Regions from separate parts of the Homo sapiens genome. Here region 1 is linked to region 2. Evidence: fine-mapped QTL for protein levels in blood plasma. A gene starts in region 2. The other region holds a variant in brackets. All regions are shown on one strand. Distances are from middle to middle. Region 1 holds the start of RINL (Ras and Rab interactor like). Region 2 holds the start of LGALS4 (galectin 4).

The links. PIP is the posterior inclusion probability: the model's chance that the variant is causal. The UK Biobank Pharma Proteomics Project read protein levels with antibody pairs (Olink). The fine-mapping took linkage between variants from a reference panel, not from the people measured, so its PIPs are less certain.
Region 1: its variant is fine-mapped to the plasma level of the LGALS4 protein (UK Biobank, PIP above 0.99).

Annotation. Positions count from the first base shown.
Region 1 is chr19:38,870,839-38,879,499 of GRCh38, forward strand. RINL (Ras and Rab interactor like) reads right to left here and starts at 7,437. Exons shown (of 12, transcript NM_001195833.2): 1 at 7,394-7,437; 2 at 5,855-5,943; 3 at 5,493-5,652; 4 at 3,048-3,150; 5 at 960-1,032; 6 at 809-873; 7 at 240-389; 8 at 1-154. The coding sequence starts at 5,904. It overlaps SIRT2 (sirtuin 2), which reads right to left. Exons shown (of 16, transcript NM_012237.4): 15 at 8,596-8,661; 16 at 7,722-8,472. The coding sequence ends at 8,317. RefSeq lists enhancers at 1-395, 7,814-7,933, 7,974-8,073 and a silencer at 7,224-7,273. The variant T/C (reference allele first, on the strand shown) is at 5,633.
Region 2 is chr19:38,810,502-38,818,499 of GRCh38, forward strand. It overlaps LGALS4 (galectin 4), which reads right to left and starts at 2,444. Exons shown (of 10, transcript NM_006149.4): 1 at 2,341-2,444; 2 at 1,930-2,018. The coding sequence starts at 2,385. ECH1 (enoyl-CoA hydratase 1) reads right to left here. Exons shown (of 10, transcript NM_001398.3): 4 at 6,950-7,074; 5 at 6,815-6,863; 6 at 6,564-6,628; 7 at 5,952-6,022; 8 at 5,783-5,854; 9 at 5,356-5,506; 10 at 4,921-5,216. The coding sequence ends at 5,112. RefSeq lists a silencer at 5,254-5,454.

The sequences.
Region 1 (8,661 bases), 61 kb after region 2:
TCTTCAGGGTCGTCCTCCCTTCCTTCCTCCTTTCCTTCAAGGTCTTCCTCCTCCTCTTCCAGTAGGCTGGCGAGAGCCGGCCCAGGATGGTCCACTTCCGGGCTGAGCGGGCCTTTCACCCAGGAGACCCCGTGAGGCGCAGGGTTCCTGGGGGCTGGAAGTGAGGAGGGCATTCGGTCGCCTAGAACAGGGGCAGCAGCTCCCTCCCCTTCAGAGGCCCAGGGCCCCGCCCAGCTAACCTGGATCATGTCTCTGAGCAGCCTCTGGCTCTGTTTCTTGAGGGGTCTGCTCCCTCCCCCAGCCTCTGTGGGTCTCCAGGTAGAGCTGGTTCACAATGGAAAGCACCTTCCCTGGGGTGTCCTGTTGGACCCTGCCGATCTGCACAGGATCTGGAGCCAGCAGAAGTGAGAAGGTGTCCTAGGTATCCAAGGGACCAACCCTGGTCCCCTCAAGGCGCCAGGAGACTTACTTCCCAGCTTCATTGCTGGAGGTGCTGAGGCTTAGCTCCTGGCCCCTCCTCAGTCAGACCCAGGAGTCCAGGCCCCTAGTCCCCTTCTCACTTAGGCCCAGGCGTCCGGGACCCCCAGTTCCTTCCTCCTCCAATCCTCTCCTCTGTTAGGACCTAGGAATACAGGCCCCCATCCCCTCCTCCCTCTGGGACTACAAAGTCCAGGCCCCCAGCTCTCTCTAGTCTCCAGTTCTATATTCTCCTCAAACCCAGTAGTCTGGGCCCCAAAGCCCCATTCATTCCCTTGGAGCAAGGAAATTGGCAGGTTGGCTGTGCCCTCTTTAGAGAACCGTGCCTCACCTGTGTGTTCATCTCTGGGCCCTAGAGTGGGAGGGGGCAAGAGCAGGGTTCTGGGCAGAACATCCCTGAGAATAAAGAGGTGGGAGCCACAGTGTCAGTGGGGTGTCTTAGGGAAGGGTCCCCCTTAGTGCCTCAGATGGGTGACCTGTACCTGCTGGCTGATAGAAAGGCCAGGAGATGGGGCAGGTCTGGCATGCAGAGGTTGGAGGATTCCAGGGACACACCTGTGGTGGGGGGAGGAAGAAGGAGAAAGTAAACTTGAGTGGTGGCAGTTTTCTGTCCCCTGGGATGCTCTTGCTCCTCCATTCCTTCAGAATCCCCCCAGGGACCTTCAGAACAGGGAAGTTCCCACTCTTTGGAGTCTCCATCTTTACTCTTGTGTACCACTTATGCCACCAACAAGGATTCATTCATTAGACAAACATTTACTGAGCCCTTAGTCCTTTCTAGGCACTGGAGATACAGTTATCAAAAGGCAGACAAGTTCACTGCCTTCCTGTAGCTTACCTTTTAGCGGGGGGCGGAGGGGGAAAAGGCAGAATATAAATGAATAAACAGTCAGGGTACGGTGGCTCACGCCTGTAATTCTAGCACTTTGGGAAGCCGAGGTGGGTGAATCACCTGAAGTCAGGAGTTCGAGACCAGCCTGGCCAACATGGCGAAACCCCATCTCTATTAAAAATACAAAAATTAGCTGGGCATGGTGGTGGGCGCCTGTAATCCCAGATACTTGGGAGCCTGAGGCAGGAGAATCACTTGAACTCGGGAAGTGGAGGTTGAAGTGACCTGAGATTAAGCCATTGCACTCCAGCCTGGGCGACAAAAGTGAGACTATCTCAATAAATAAATAAATAAATAAATAAAAATAAATTTTAAAAACGAGTAAACAAAGTGGATATTGTATTGAGTGCTATGAAGAAAATGGAGTGATTGAAAGTGACCAAGAGGCCAGGCATGGTGACTTACGCCTGTAATCCCATCACTTTGGGAGGCTGAGGTGGGTGGATCACTTGAGGTCAGGAGTTCAAGCCAGCCTGGCCAACATGGCAAAACCCATCTCTATTAAAAATACAAAAAATTGGGAGGTGGGGGCCTAGGGGAGGGATAGCATTAGGAAGAAATACCTAATGTAGATCATGGGTTGATGGGTGCAGCAAACCACCATGACACCTGTATACCTATGTAACAAACCTGCACATTCTGGACATGTATCCCAAAACTTAAAGTACGATAAAAAATAAATAAATAAAAATAAAAATAAACCAAAAAATTAGTCATGTGTGGTGGTGTGCACCTGTAATCCCAGCTACTTGGGAGGCTGAGAGGCATGAGAATTGCTTGAACCTGGGAGGTAGAGGTGGCAGTGAGTTGAGATTGGGCCACTGCACTCCGCCTGAGCGACAGAGTGAGACTCTGTCTAAAAGAAAAAAGAAAAAGAAAGTGACCAAGGTGCCATCTTTTAACTATGATGGTCAAGAAAGGTTACATTTCTGCAGAGGCCTGGAGGATGGAGACTAAACCAGCCCCTCTAGGAAAAGCATTCATACAGGATGAACCCAAGCAGAGGTCCTGAAGCTGGAACACACTTAGCATGCTAAAGACACACAGAGTGTAACAGTGTGTATGGGGCAGAGTGAATGAGGGGCAATAGATAGAGAGACAGGAAGGAACTACATCACACAGCACCTTATAGATCATGACAAGGAGTTTACATTTTGTATCTAAGGACGTTGCATGCTCTTTGCAGGATTTGGGGCAGGGGTGTATAACATCTGATTGATACTGAAAAATATCTTGGGCTCAGAATGGATTGTGGGAAGGAAAGGGAGACAGGATTGGAAATATTCATCAGATATTTTGGAAACAAAGCTGACAGGTGTTTTTGTTTTGTTTTGTTTTGGCAGGGTTTCCCTCTGTTGCCAAGGCTGGAGGGCAGTGGTGTGATCTTGGCTCACTGCAACCTCTGCCTCCTGGGTTCAAGCTATTCTCGTGCCTCGGCCTGCCAAGTAGCTGGGATTACAGTCGCGCGTCACCAAGCCCGGCTAATTTTTGTATTTTTTGTAGAGACGGGGTTTTGCCATGTTGGCCAGGCTGGTCTCAAAATCCTGGCCTCAAGCGATCCACCCGCCTCGACCTACCAAAGTGCTGGGATTACAGGCGTGAGCCACCGCGCCGGTCCAGCTGATAGTTCTTAGTGATCAATTGACTGTGGGCTGGAACCTCAGGGGAGGTGCCTTACCTCTGGGAATCTTCTGGATCTGGTAGGTATTGACTTCTCCTGGTAAAGGTCCTGACCTCAACACCAGGGCCTGGCTGGGGTCACGTCCTGTGACCAAGAAACTCTGGGGGATAGAGACAAAGGCCAGCGTGACAAAGGTGTGCGCAGATGTCTGTTGCTTTTGCCTGACTAGCATCCATTTCCCTTATTTTGGGTTCCACACCCCAAATTTCCTTTAGGGAAACCCTCTCCCTACTTTCAGTCCATGTGTGTTGGGCTGACTTCCCCCAAGCCCTGGCGGGGTGGGCCCATGACCTGATCTAGCCAACAGGATGAGGGTGCTCTCGGCCCACTGTTTGGTTCAGGGAACAGGCATGTGACTCAAGCTCAGCCAATGGACATCTTCCACAGGATTTTTTTTTTTTTGAGACGGAGTCTTGCCCTGTCGCCCAGGCTGGAGTGCAGTGGCACAATCTCTGCCCACTGCAACCTCCGCCTCCCGGGGTCAAGCGATTCTCCTGCCTCAGCCTCCCAAGTAGCTGGGATTACGGGCGACTGCCACCACGCCCGGCTAAGTTTTTGTATTTTTAGCAGAGACAGAGTTTCACCACATTGGCCAGGCTAGTCTTGAACTCCTGACTTCAAGTGATCCGCTCTTCTCAGCCTCTCATAGTGCTGGGATAATAGGCGTGAGCCACTGCGTGCTGGAGCTCTTTTGGAAAGACTTCATTTGTTACACTGGTGTTGCTAAACTGGTGGGATACAGCTCTGAGCTGGGAAGGATGATACCCTCCTGAGGAGGAAGCTGTGGTAGCCCCCGTTTGCTGTCGTCTCCAAACCTATTCCACATTCCTTGCAGAATTCCTTGTTCACGGCATTAATATACCCAGCCATGAGTATGATTGATATATGGATCATGATTGATATAGGTGGTGGTTCTTAGCTCTGGCTGTATACGTCCCAAGAGAGCTGTTAAAAATATTGCTACAGCCGGGCACGGTGGCTCACGCCTGTAATCCCAGCACTTTGGGAGGCCGAGGCGGGTGGATCACCTGAGGGCAGGAGTTCGAGACCACCCTGGCCAACGTGGTGAATCCCAGTCTCTACTAAAAATACAAAAATTAGCCGGGTGTAATGGCGGGCGCCTGTAATCCCAGCTACTCGGGAGGCTGAGGCAGGAGAATCGCTTGAACCCGGGAGGCAGAGGTTGCAGTGAGCCAATATCGTGCCACTGCACTCCAGCTTGGGTGACAGAGGGAGACTCCATCTCAAAAAATAATAATAAAAATAATAAATAAAAAAATTAAAAATATTGCTACCTGGGCCCCATCCTTTTTTTTTTCTTTTTTCTTTTTTTTTTTTTTTTAATAGAGACTGGGCCTTGCTCTGTTGCCCAGGCTGGTCTTGAACTCCTAGGCTTAAGCGAGCCTCCTACCTCAGCCTCCCAAAATGCTGGGATTACAGGCGTGAGTCAGCACACCCGGCCAGCCATCTATATTTTCTGAATCAGTTGTGAAAACCTTTATTTTGGCCGGGGACGGTGGTTCACACCTGTAATCCCAGCACTTTGGGAGGCAGAGGTGGGTGGATCACCTGACGTCAGGAGTTTGAGACCAGCTTGGCCAACATGGTGAAATCCCATCTCTACTAAAAATACAAAAAATTAGCCGGGCGTTGTGGCAGATGCCTGTAATCCCAGCTACTCAGGAGGCTGAGGCAGGAGAATCGCTTGAACCTGGGAGGCGGAAGTTGCAGTGTGCCGAGATCATGCCATTGCACTCCAGCCTGGGCAACAAGAGTGAAACTCTCAAAATTAAAAAAAAAAAGAAAAGAAAACCTTTATTTTTCCTGTAAAATAAACAGATGCAAGTGGTGCCTCTGTTCTTCCTGCCTGGAATGCACGCAGGTGCTTGGGCCTGGGGCAGCCCCCGGGAAGCTGTGAGAGAAGTCCAAGAGAATTATAGCTATGCTGGCCTCAATGTCACTGCACTGCTGATCTAAAGCCAGCAGCTGCCTTTTTGGTTATGTTAGGAAGATAAATGCCTATTTGTTTAAACCGCTGTAGGACAGGTGTTTGTTATATTCAGTCCCAAATATCCAAAATTCCCCGCAGTTGAAAGCAAAGCCAAGAAATGGGATGAAGAGGAATTTATAAGTGTTCTGAAGTTCAGGATCCAGAGCTTCTTGAAATTACATTTTTTTTTTTTTTTTTTTAGACAGGGTCTTGCTCCATCACCCAGGCTCAAGTGAAGTGGCATGATCTCAGCTCACTGCCGCCTTGACCTCCTGAGCTCAAATGATCCTCCCACCTCAGCCTCATGAGTAGCTAGGACTGCAGGCATGAGCCATTGCACCCAGCAATAAATAGCCTTTTTGGTTTGCCCAATTTGTGTCATGTTTGTCACTAGTAACCAGCAGAGTCCTAATCTAGGGTGTCAGGATGGGCCCCCAGCTGTGAGTACTCACCCCTAGTGGCCACAGCCCCACAAGGGCCTCCGCATCCTGGGTATCCAGCTCTGGCACATGCCACACCCCCCATGTCCTCTGCAGGCGAGTAAGTGGCTCTAGGGTGCTGAGGACCCCTAGAGGGGTCCTGTCTGCTTTGT[T/C]CACCTGTGGTGGGACCAGCCTGGGATGGACAGTGTCCAGGGAGTCAGGGGTCAGAGGTGGGCAGTGGGACAATGAGGTGAGGTCAAAGGTACAGGAAGGGGCAGGCCCAGGGCAGAGGCTCAGAGATGTGATTCAGGATTCTGTAGTGAGGGAGGTATTGGATGGAAAGGGTTTCTGGATGCAGGGGAAGGAGGGCATAGCCTCAGCCCTAGTAGCCTCACCTCACCCCCTCTGTGGGGACTTCAGGTGCCTTGTCTTCTGGCTGGGCCATCGTCAGGTTGCAGGAAGCCAGTGAGTCATGACCTGGCCTCTGGCAGGGAGAAAGGTAAGACTCAAAGCTGCTCTAGCCCTCGGGTCATGTTCAAGATATTTACAATCAATATGGCAGAGACCCTGACCAATCAGAATGGACCCCAGAGGCCGCTTGCCGTGGCAGGGGTTAATTCTTTATTTTATTTTTGAGACGGAGTCTCACTGTATTGCCCAGACTGCAGTGCAGTGGCACGATCTCAGCTCACTGCAACCTCCGCCTCGTAGGTTCAAGCGATTCTTGTGCCTCAGTCTCCCGAGTAGTTGGGATTACAGGCGTGCACCACCACGCCTGGGTAATTTTTGTATTTTTTAGTAGAGACAAGGTTTTGACGTGTTACCCAGGCTGGTCTCAAACTCCTGACCTCAAGTGATCCCCCCGCCTCGGCCTCCCAAAGTGCTGAGATTACAGGCATGAGCCACCACACCCGGCCGGCAGGGGTTAAATCTTTAGTACCGGATGGTGGGGAATCTGGGGATCCCAGGAGAGAGGCCAGTGTGTCTTGCGGTGTGGGGAGAGGACTCAAAACAATAGCTCTTTACTGAAGTGGTAGGAAATATGTTAAGATTTTTAACAGCCATGGGGGCTGTGTAAATGTGGGCCAGCCCTTGGCAAAACCCAGTCAGCGCCTGGAAAAGTTCTTGGCCCAGAGTAGGCAGTCCCTATATCTGGAAAGGTAATAACATCCCCTCTTCCTCCCTTCCCACACCATGGAGGGGCCACTGAATCTCTTCCCCCAGCATTTTATTATGAAAAATTTCAGACATAGAGAAAAGCTGAAAGAATTGTACAGGAAACATCCCTATGCCCACTACCAAGATTCTACCATGAACATTTTACTCATCTTGCTTTATCACACATCTGTTCCTCTCTCTCTTCATCCACCCATCAGGCCCCAGCTCCTAACCAGGTACAGAGTCCTACGTAGGTTATCACTTAGGGTGGCACTTATCCCAGCAGCAGTCCCAGGAGCAGGAGACCTGGATCGGGGGAGGATCCATCCTCCCTCCCTCCCTCCCTCCCTTCCTTCCTTCCTTCCATCCATCCAGTATTTACTGAATACAGGCTGGAATTAGGTGCCTCTGCCCTGGAGAGAGGGTGATGAACAGGACAGGCTCCTCCCCTCAGGGCCTTCCATTCTTGTTTGGGGCAGGTGTAGCATATGGATAATAGGCAGCTAAACAAATACATTAGGCCATTGACCAGAAGGCCAGGGTGTTATTAGGAAGGAGGGAGGTGGGCAGGGAGGCGCAGGTGCCCTGCCCAGGCAAGAGCAGGAAGGAAGGGAGGGGAGGGGAGGGGAGAGGGAAGCAGATGCCTGCTTGTGTACCGTGGCAGGAGAGGAGGCTGTGGGCAGTGCGTGGCAGGGGTGGGTCAGGGCAGCTGCCTCATACCAAAGGGAGGCAGCAGGGGCTGAAGATGCCAGATGCTCGGTTCCTGGGGGCCCTACCTGTTCTCGGAGGAGAGGCCTGCAGTAGCAGGAAGTGGAGAGAGGAAGCTGAGCAGGCAGGGGGAAGAGGCGGGGCTGGGGTATCTGAAGTCAACTTTCCTCCCTCTTTCTGGGGCCTCAGGCCTTTAGTGACGGGGCTTAGAGGAAGGGACACTGGCAGGCTGGGAGTCCAGGGGTCAGAGCCACGAGGGCCCCCGTGAGGACCCTCTTGTTACCCCTCACTCTGGATCCCGGAGACTTTCTGGTTCCTTAGTGGCCCAAGATCTAACCCCCTCCCTTCAGAGATTTCCCTGGGTGCCCACAGAAAGAAACAGGAGGCCAGACCGGATTGTTAGTTGTTTTTGTTTTTAATTTGTCTCCAATAAGCAATGTCTTCTGCCCATCCAGCATGGGAAGTGGGTCCCACGTGAAGGGGGCCCACCACCCACTTTGGGAGCTGAAGGCAGAGACTCGGGAGCCCTCCCGGCTCAGACTCCCCCTACGCTGGGTGTGGGTTATATTCAGAGGCCCACACCCACACTGGGGTAGGTTAGGTATGGTTTACTTAGCCACAGGCCCCCGGGGGCAGGAGACAGAGTGGGGGCCCGAAGCTCCCTGTCCTGGAAGAGTTAAAAGTTCTGGGGTAGCCCTGGCCCCGTGGGGGCAGTTAGAGATGAGGGAGGTTACTCCTTAGCCCAGGAGTGGTTAGAGACAGTGGGGCTGGTAGAGATGCCTGTTTAAGCCTTGGCCTCTAGGAGGTGTTAGAGATTTGCTGGGGTTGGGGGCCAGGGTTGCTGGGACCCCAGTTTTGGGGAGGGAGCTGTAAGAGATTGGGGGATGTTCTGAGCTCCCCAGACAAGAACTGCTGGTTAAGAGGGGGCCAGGCCCGGTTGGGGCTCAGCTGTCCCTGAGGAGCTCGGCATCCCGCCTGGGAGATGCAGCTGTCACTGGGGTTTCTCCCTCTCTGTTGTCCTGGCCTCGTCCTTGGCAGGTGGCGGGGACTTCTTGGGGGAAGCTGAAGTGCTGGGGTTGGGGACCCCCGCCCCCGACTGGGCATCTATGCTGGCGTGCTCCCTCCGGACAAGGTCCTCCAGCTCCTTCTGCAGGAGCAAAGGTCACAGAAGTCAAAGGTCACTGTGCATCATGGGGTCAGAGGACCCATGGGGTGGGGAGAGGGTCCAGGGATGGGGCTCAGGACAGGCTGGGGTTGCTCAGCTCCTCACCTTCCATCCAAGGAGCTCAGCAAGGGCCAGGCAGCCCTGGTCGCATTCACCCAGCCAGGCCACGTC
Region 2 (7,998 bases):
ACAGGCACCCGCCACCATGCCCAGCTAATTTTTTGTATTTTTAGTAGAGACGGGGTTTCACTGTGTTAGCCAGGATGGTCTCGATCTCCTGACCTCGTGATCCGCCCGTCTCTGCCTCCCAAAGTGCTGGGATTACAGACGTGAGCCACCACGCCCAGCCAGATGCGATTTTGCCATTTTGGCCAGGCTAGTCTCGAGCTCCTGACCTCAGGTGATCTGCCTGGCTTAGCCACCCAAAGTGCTGGGATTACAGGCGTAAGCCACCATGCCCGGCCAGGCCACCCTATTTAAGGGGACAATTTAAAGGGAACCTCTGTCCGCACATACACTCCCCATCTCCCTTCCCTCCTCATTTTCTTCATAGCACTTAATATCATCTGACATCTTACATATTTGACTTTTTTTTTTTTTTTTTTTGAGACAGAGTCTCACTCTTGTTGCCCAGGCTGTAGTGCAATGGCACGATCTCGGCTCACCGAAACCTCCACTTCCCAGGTTCAAGTGATTCTCCTGCCTCAGCCTCCTGAGTAGCTGGGATTACAGGCATGCGCCACCACGCCCTGGTAATTTTGTATTTTTAGTAGAGACAGGGTTTCTCCATTTTGGTCAGGCTGGTCTTGAACTCCCGATCTCAGGTGATCTGCCTGCCTAGGCCTCCTAAAGTGCTGGGATTACAGGCCTGAGCTACCGCGCCCGGCCTGGACTTATTTTTTATGTTTCCCCTACTAGGACATCAGCTCCACGAGGGCAGGGGTCTCTGTCCTGTTCACTCCTCCATCCCTAGTGCCAGGACACAGAATAGGCACTCAGTGAAGAAGTAAACAATAAATAAATAAACAACAGGCTGGGCAGAGTGGCTCATACCAGTGCCTGATCCTCCCAGCACTTTAGGAGGCCGAGGCTAGAGGATCGCTTGAGCACAGGAGTTCAAGACCAGCCTGGGCAACATAACAAGACTTTGTCTCTACAAAACAAATAATAATAATAAATAAAAATTAAAAATTAAATTAGTTGGGCATGGTGGCACATGTCTGTAGTCCCATCTGCTTGGAAAGATGAGGTAGGAGGATCACTTTAGCCCAGGAGTTGGAGGCCGAAGTGAGCTATAATATTGTGCCACTGCACTCCAGCTTGGGCAACAGAGCAAGACCCTATCTCTAAGGAAAAAAAAAGTCCTATGAGGCCAATCATTATCAACGTGTTAAGGCCCTTTTTAAAAAGCTAAGACTGGGCCAGGCGCAGTGGCTCACGCCTGTAATCCCAGCACTTTGGGAGGCCGAGATGGGAGGATCACTTGAGGTCAGGAGTTCGAGACCAGCCTGACCAACATGGTGAAACCCCATCTCTACTAAAAATACAAAAATTAGCCAGTGTGCTGGCACATGCCTGTAATCCCAGCTACTCAAGAGGCTGAGGCAGGAGAATCGCTTGAACCTGGGAGACAGAGGTTGCAGTGAGCCAAGATCATGCCATTGCACTCCAGCCTGGGCGACAAGAGCAAAACTCCATCTCAAAACAAAAAAAAAAACAAAAAAAACAAAAACAGAAAAGAAAAGAAAATGAAGCACAGAGAGGTATAGTCACTTTCACTCTTTCACCAACACAGAGCTGGGGAGTGGCAGAGCTGGGATTTTAACTCGGGGACCCGGCTCTGAGCCTGTGATCTGAATTCCTGCCATTGCACCCATCAGCTTCAGTCTAATGTCCAACTCAGGGACTGCCTCTCACGGTGAGCCCTCCCTGAACCTTCTGGCCCCCACGTCCCCACTCCTGATCTGCCCCAGATTCATCTCTGGCTATTGGGTGGGGCAGAAAAAGAGTCCCCTCTCCACCAGGGTGGGGTAAGGGCAGAAAGCCCCCAACAGCCAGGCCCAGAGCACCCAGTTGGAAGTCCCCTGCCAGCCCGGCCTGGCTTGGGGAGGGTCTTACCGCTTCATGTGCTCGCTGGCCACTCCTTGGATGTAAACAGACATTCCCACGTTGAGCCCGCCCGGGATGGGCTGGTAGTAAGGCAGCGTCTGGAGAAGAGGCCTGGTGAGGGGACTCACAAGCCATCTGCCTGTTGCAGCCTTTACCCCTCCCAGAAAAGCCCCCCAGTCCCTTAAGCAGGAGAGAGGAAACCATGGGGGAGGACCAGGTTGAAGATGACGAGGGCCAACAGTTAGACGTGGACACAGACAGCCTGAGGTCAGGGTAGGAGTAAATCGAGGGTCGGGGTCAGCTTTGGGTAAATCAGACCACAGAGTCAGATGGGGCCCCCCAGGATCAGAGTGGGGAAAATTGGTGTGAGGGCTTATGGACGGAGCTGCGGGCGGAGTGGGGCCTGAGCTGGCATCTCACCGGGTTGTAGGTGGGCTGGTAGCCCGGTGCGGGGACATAGGCCATCGCTCGAGGCTGCGCTAGTGGCTGGTCCTGTGAGAAGAGCTGCAGGAGTGGGAGATGGTGGCGGATGGCAGGCGGTGGTGGCTCTTATACCCAGGGTAAGGGAGTGGCTGGCAGGGGAGGGTCCACAGGGCTCCTCTTCTGGGACTCTCAGGCTGTCGGCTTCTCCTAGAGCGCACCCTAGTCTCCCTTCCCTTGCCAGCTTCCCTGGTGACCAGCCAGGACCCAAATCACCTGGGTCCCCTCCCCTACGCCCTCCTGCAAAGAGGAAGTGCTCATGAACTTCGGCCCTGCCAGGGCCTTATCAGAGCCCATAAAACCCTGCCCAGACTTCTGTTGGCAGAGGGAGGGTGAGACCAGGCAGGGCAGGGCAGGCTGCAGGAATGACCCAGGACAGGTGGGCAGCGGAGGAGGAGAACGCGGAGGAACTGCAAATTCCTGCCTCTCCCAGCAACTGTGAAGGGACCTACGTTGATTGCGTGCCCACCACACATCTTTACCACGTATGTTGTATTGTAGGGAGAGTGGTTTAGATTACTAGTGTGTGGAGCCAGAGGTTCTAGGTTCAAATCCTGCCTTTGCCACTTCTCAGCTGTATGATCATGGGTCAGTGCCTTACCCTCAATTTGCCCATGTGCTCATCTGTAAAATGGGGATATAGTAGTATCGGCTGGGTGCAGTGGCTCATGCCTGTAATCCCAGCACTTTGACTGGCCGAGGTGGATGGATCACCTGAGGGCAGGAGTTCGAGACCAGCCTGGCAAAATCCCAGTCTCTACTAAAAATACAAAAATTAGCCAGGCATGGTGGTGGGTGCCTATAATCCCATCTACTTGGAGGCTGAGGCAGGAGAATCACTTGAACCTGAGTGGAGGAGAGTGCAGTGAGCCAAGGTCACGCCACTGCACTCCAGCTTGGATGACAGATGGAGACTCTGTTTCAAAAAAAAAAAAAAAAAAAAAGGAATTCATAAGAGAGGAAACAAGTATTGAATAGCTATCAAAATATTTTAAAAATGAATTTGTGATCCAGTAATGCCTGTATGTTATTAATCTGCCAAATAAGTTCTAGCTGTGGGTCCAACTGCCACTCAGAAAAATAAATAAATAAAGAAAAGAGTAGTATCAACCTTAGGCTGGGTGTGGTGGCTTGTGCCTACAATCCCAGCAATTTGGGAAGCTGAAGCAGGAGGACTGCTTGAGCCCAGGAGTTCAAGACCAGCCTGGGCAACATAGTGAGACCCCCATCTCTACAAAAATAAAATAAAAATTAGCTGGGCATGGTAGCACACATCTGTATTCCTAGCTACTCAGAGGCTGAGGCAGGAGGATCGCTTGAACCCAGGAGTTAAGGTTACAGTGAGCTATGATCATGCCACTGCACTCCAGCCTGGGTGACAGACTAAGAGTCCGTCTCTAAAAATAGCAACAATAATAGTCATAATAATAATAATCATAATAGTATCAACTTCATAGAGTCCTTGATCATTAAGATAATAAATGCTCAGAACAGGACATAGCATATAGAAGTCATTAACTTAATGCTTGGTCTCTTGCAGTCATTCCAAACATAAATCCGGAAGATTGGGATGATATATGGATAAAAAATCCCAAAGTTTTGTTTGCTCATTTTTGAGACAGAGTCTTGCTCTATCACCCAGGCTGCAGTGCAGTGGCACCATCTCAGCTCACTGCAACCTCCACCTCCCAGGTTCAAGGGATTCTCCTGCCTCAGCCTTCTGAATAGCTGGGATTACAGGCTTACTCCACGCCTGGCTAATTTTTGTATTTTTAGTAGAGACCAGGTTTTGCCATGTTGGCCAGGCTGGTCTCAAACTCCTGACCTCAAGTGATCCACCTGCCTCAACCTCCCAAAGTGCTGGAATTACAGGCATGAGCCACTGCACCCGGCCAGAAACCCCAAAGTCCTTTTTTGTTTTGTTTTTTCTTTTTTTGAGACAGAGTCTCACTCTGTCACCCAGGCTGGACTGCAGCAGCATGATCTCAGCTCACTGCAAACTCACCTCCTGGGTTCAAGGATTCTCCTGCCTCAGCCTCCCGAGTAGCTGGGACTAGAGGCACCTGCCACCACACCTAGCTAATTTTTGTATTTTTAGTAGAGACTGGGTTTCAACATGTTGACTAGGCTGGTTGCAAACTCCTGAGCTCAGGCAATCCACCTGCGTCAGCCTCCAAAAGTGCTGGGATTACAGGTGTGAGACGCCAGCATCAGATCCCATGTGCTGTGCAGTGAGAGGTGCCAGGCAGGGCACGAACGCCACCCTCAACCCCAGGGCAGGCAGGGAGACCAGGAAGCCTTGCAACCCAGAGGGACCCCAGCGACTTTTGCTCACTCCCTCCGCCCCGGAATTCCTTGTGCCCCTCGCCTGCCCGCTGCCAGTCTGAATGGCCATCACCTCCATGCCACCCATTCCCATGCATCCAACCTCTAGCCCCAGCCTTCAGGACTGCAGTCTCTGGAGCCCCTAGGTGCATCCCAGCCCCTCCCACCTCTCCTCTATCCAAGAAGGGCACCAGGTTCTTTACTTTGCTTTATTGTTTGTGGGGTGAAGATAAGGCCTTGGGCTTGAGAAACTCATTGTCATAAAGTTATAAACTGGGAAACTGGGTCAGAAGGCATAGAAACAACTGTCATCGCCCATCCTCCCTTTCTGTGGATGAGGCGGGACAAGGCCGGCCCCCTGGCTGGGGCCTGGGACGCGAGGGCTCTCAGAGCTTGGAGAAGGTGACGGTTTTCAGTTCCTTGTTCTCAGTCGTGGCCTGGACCGACTTCACGAGGTCTTGGGTCTGCAGCATGCTCATGTTCCAGGACGCCTGGTACCGAGGGTGTTGAGAGAGAACGAGGAGAGAGATTAGCAGGGGCCAATCAGGATAAAGCATGAGAGCACCCTGCACCCTGGTTGGTCGCCTGGGGTTAGAGGAGGGCTGTGATTGGTCGGAGCGTGCACCTTACCACGTAGTTGAGGCTCTCGGCCACCGAATGGTCGCGGGAATACAGCAGGTTGACCTTGGTGCTCTGCACCGCCACGGGGCTCTTGCTGGAAATCTCGGCCGCCAGCGCTAAGGCAGCATCCAGCATGACCTCTTTGTCTGGGAACACCCGGCTGCAGTGAAAGAGATCAGGGACCGGGTGGGCTGGGAAGGGCTCTCTCCTCCAGCCTCCCGCAGATGAAGAAGTGGCCACTCACAGAGGAAGGCCCAAGACCCCAGAGAAACAGCCCAATCAGAGCAGGGGGCTGACCCCACAATAAAGAAATGAGCTCACCAAGAAAGGATGCCACTAGGAATTCTAGAGCGAGGAGACAAGGGGACCCGGAGAGGCCTCCAACCCTCCAGGCCTGGCTGCCCCCAGCACTGAGCTACCACGGCCATGGCCCTACCTGACCAGCCCACTGCCCAGGGCCTCGTCAGCCATCATCTTGCGGGCGGTGAAGGCCAGCTCGTTGACCAGGCTGCAAAGGCAAGCGTGCATCAGGAGGCGGCTGCCACCCCGGGGCTGGGAGATGCTCTGGGGTCTCCTGCCCACACCCCCACACCCCCTGCACCCACCTCTGGTTCCCGATGACCTTGGGCAGGCGCTGCAGTGTTCCTACATCGGCAGCCAAACCCACGTCCACCTCCTGGGGGAGGAATCGGGTCAGTGTTTGGTTTCTGCCCAATACTGTGCCCCTCGCAATGTCAACGTCCATGAAATTTCATGTCTACTGGAGAGTCCCGCCCCACCTTCACCCCAGTGACTTCCTCCAAAGTCCCATTCCATTGCCCAGGCAGCTTCTTGACTCAGGCAAGTTCCTTCAACCTAGAATAGAGCCCACCTTCCCACTCATGCACCCTCCCATTCCCTCAGGGCAGCTCCATCTGTGAGAGAGGAACCCTCCTCACCCTACCTGAGACCCCTTTACTGCATCCCCCGGCTCCATCCTGCCTCCCACCCTCACCAGTATGGCCCCAGGAGCAATCTCTGCCTCTGACACCTGCCAGCCTCAACCCCACCTCATACCTTACCCACTCACAACTTCACCTCTTGACTTCCTCTATGGGCAAGTCTTACTTTGTCGGGTTCAACTCCGACTCTTCCATGAAGCCCTCGAGGCTCACTCCAGGCCCCCCAACCTCACCCCACTGCCCAGCTCTAAGCAGGAGCTCGGGAGGATGACTCACCTTCACCTGGAAGAAAGCATCCTGGGCACAGTACCGGATGTCACAGGCGGTGACAAGGTCCACACCTAGGAGGTAGAGGCCAGGGATGCTGAATGACCACCAGAACCAACCCTGGCTCCCGGGAGGTGGGGCTGCCTCTTGGGACACAGTCTGGCCCATGACAGAGCTGAGGCTGGATGCCAGTGGCCGCGGCATCGGAGCAGCAGCCCCACCTGGGGAGCACCCGAGCAGGAGGATAGCCGCAGACTCACCTCCGCCAATGCAGCCCCCATGGACGGCAGCAATCACGGGCTTGGGGCACTGAGAGGGAACAGGAAGAGTGGGGTCAGGGCTGGCCCAGGGGAGGCGCGTATGGAGAAAGATCCCCTCCAGACCCCTAGAGTCACCCTCTCGATGACGTTGAAGGTCTCCTGGTATCGAGTGATGATGTCACGGAGGTACCAGCTGATCCGGGCCACATCATCTCCTTTGGGCTGCAGGATGTCCGAAGCCATGTCCATCAGGTCAATACCTGGTGAGAAGGCATGATGGAGCTCATCCAGGCTCCCAGGCCCCACCCATTGACTCAACCAGGGATCAGAACCCAGGCACAGCAGGTTCGAACCCCCAAACCACCAAGGCGGAAAAAAAACAACTCACACAGGACTTGGTGAGGGATTGATTGCATGTTGGGTGGGAAGGAAATAAAAGCTAATATTTGTGGAGTCATTACTCACAGAATCCTCACAGCAACCGTACCAGCTAGGTCCTATTACTATTTGTGTTACCAATGGGTAAACTAAGGCACAGAGAGGTTAAGCACTTGCCCAAGGGGGTCACACTGGCTGGTGAGTAGTGAGTAATGAACTATTTAAATTAACTCATTAATGTTTTTAGAGACAGGGTCTCACTCTGTTATACCAGCTAGAGTGCAGTGGCACGATCATGGCTCACTGCAGCCTCGAACTCCCAGGTTCAAGCAATCCTCCCACCTCAGCCTCCTGAGTGGCTGGGACTGTGCCGAGGCTGCTCTTGAACTCCTGGGCTCAAGCGATCCTCCCACCTTGGCATCCCAAAGCACTGGGATTACACGTGTGAGCCACCATGCCGCATCAGAAGTAGGATTTTAAAATCTGGAACCATGCAGCTGGCTCCAGAGGCCATGCTTTTCCCCAAGATGCCAGACAGCCTGGGACTCAAGGTCTGCAGCGTGAGCAATGCAGTCAATGGTGGTGATGTTTCCTGAGATGAGAAACATCTCACGATGCAGCAATTTCTGTGGCTCCAACTTCAAGATGATCCTGAATCTGACCTTTCCTGCATCAGTTGTTCTCCATGAGCCCACCCTGCTCTCCCTGTTTCCACCTGTGTCCCCAGTCTATTCCCTACAGGCAGCCAGGGGAAGCCAGTGGACACCTTCTTGGGTCAGATCCTCTTTTTTTTTATTTTATTTTTT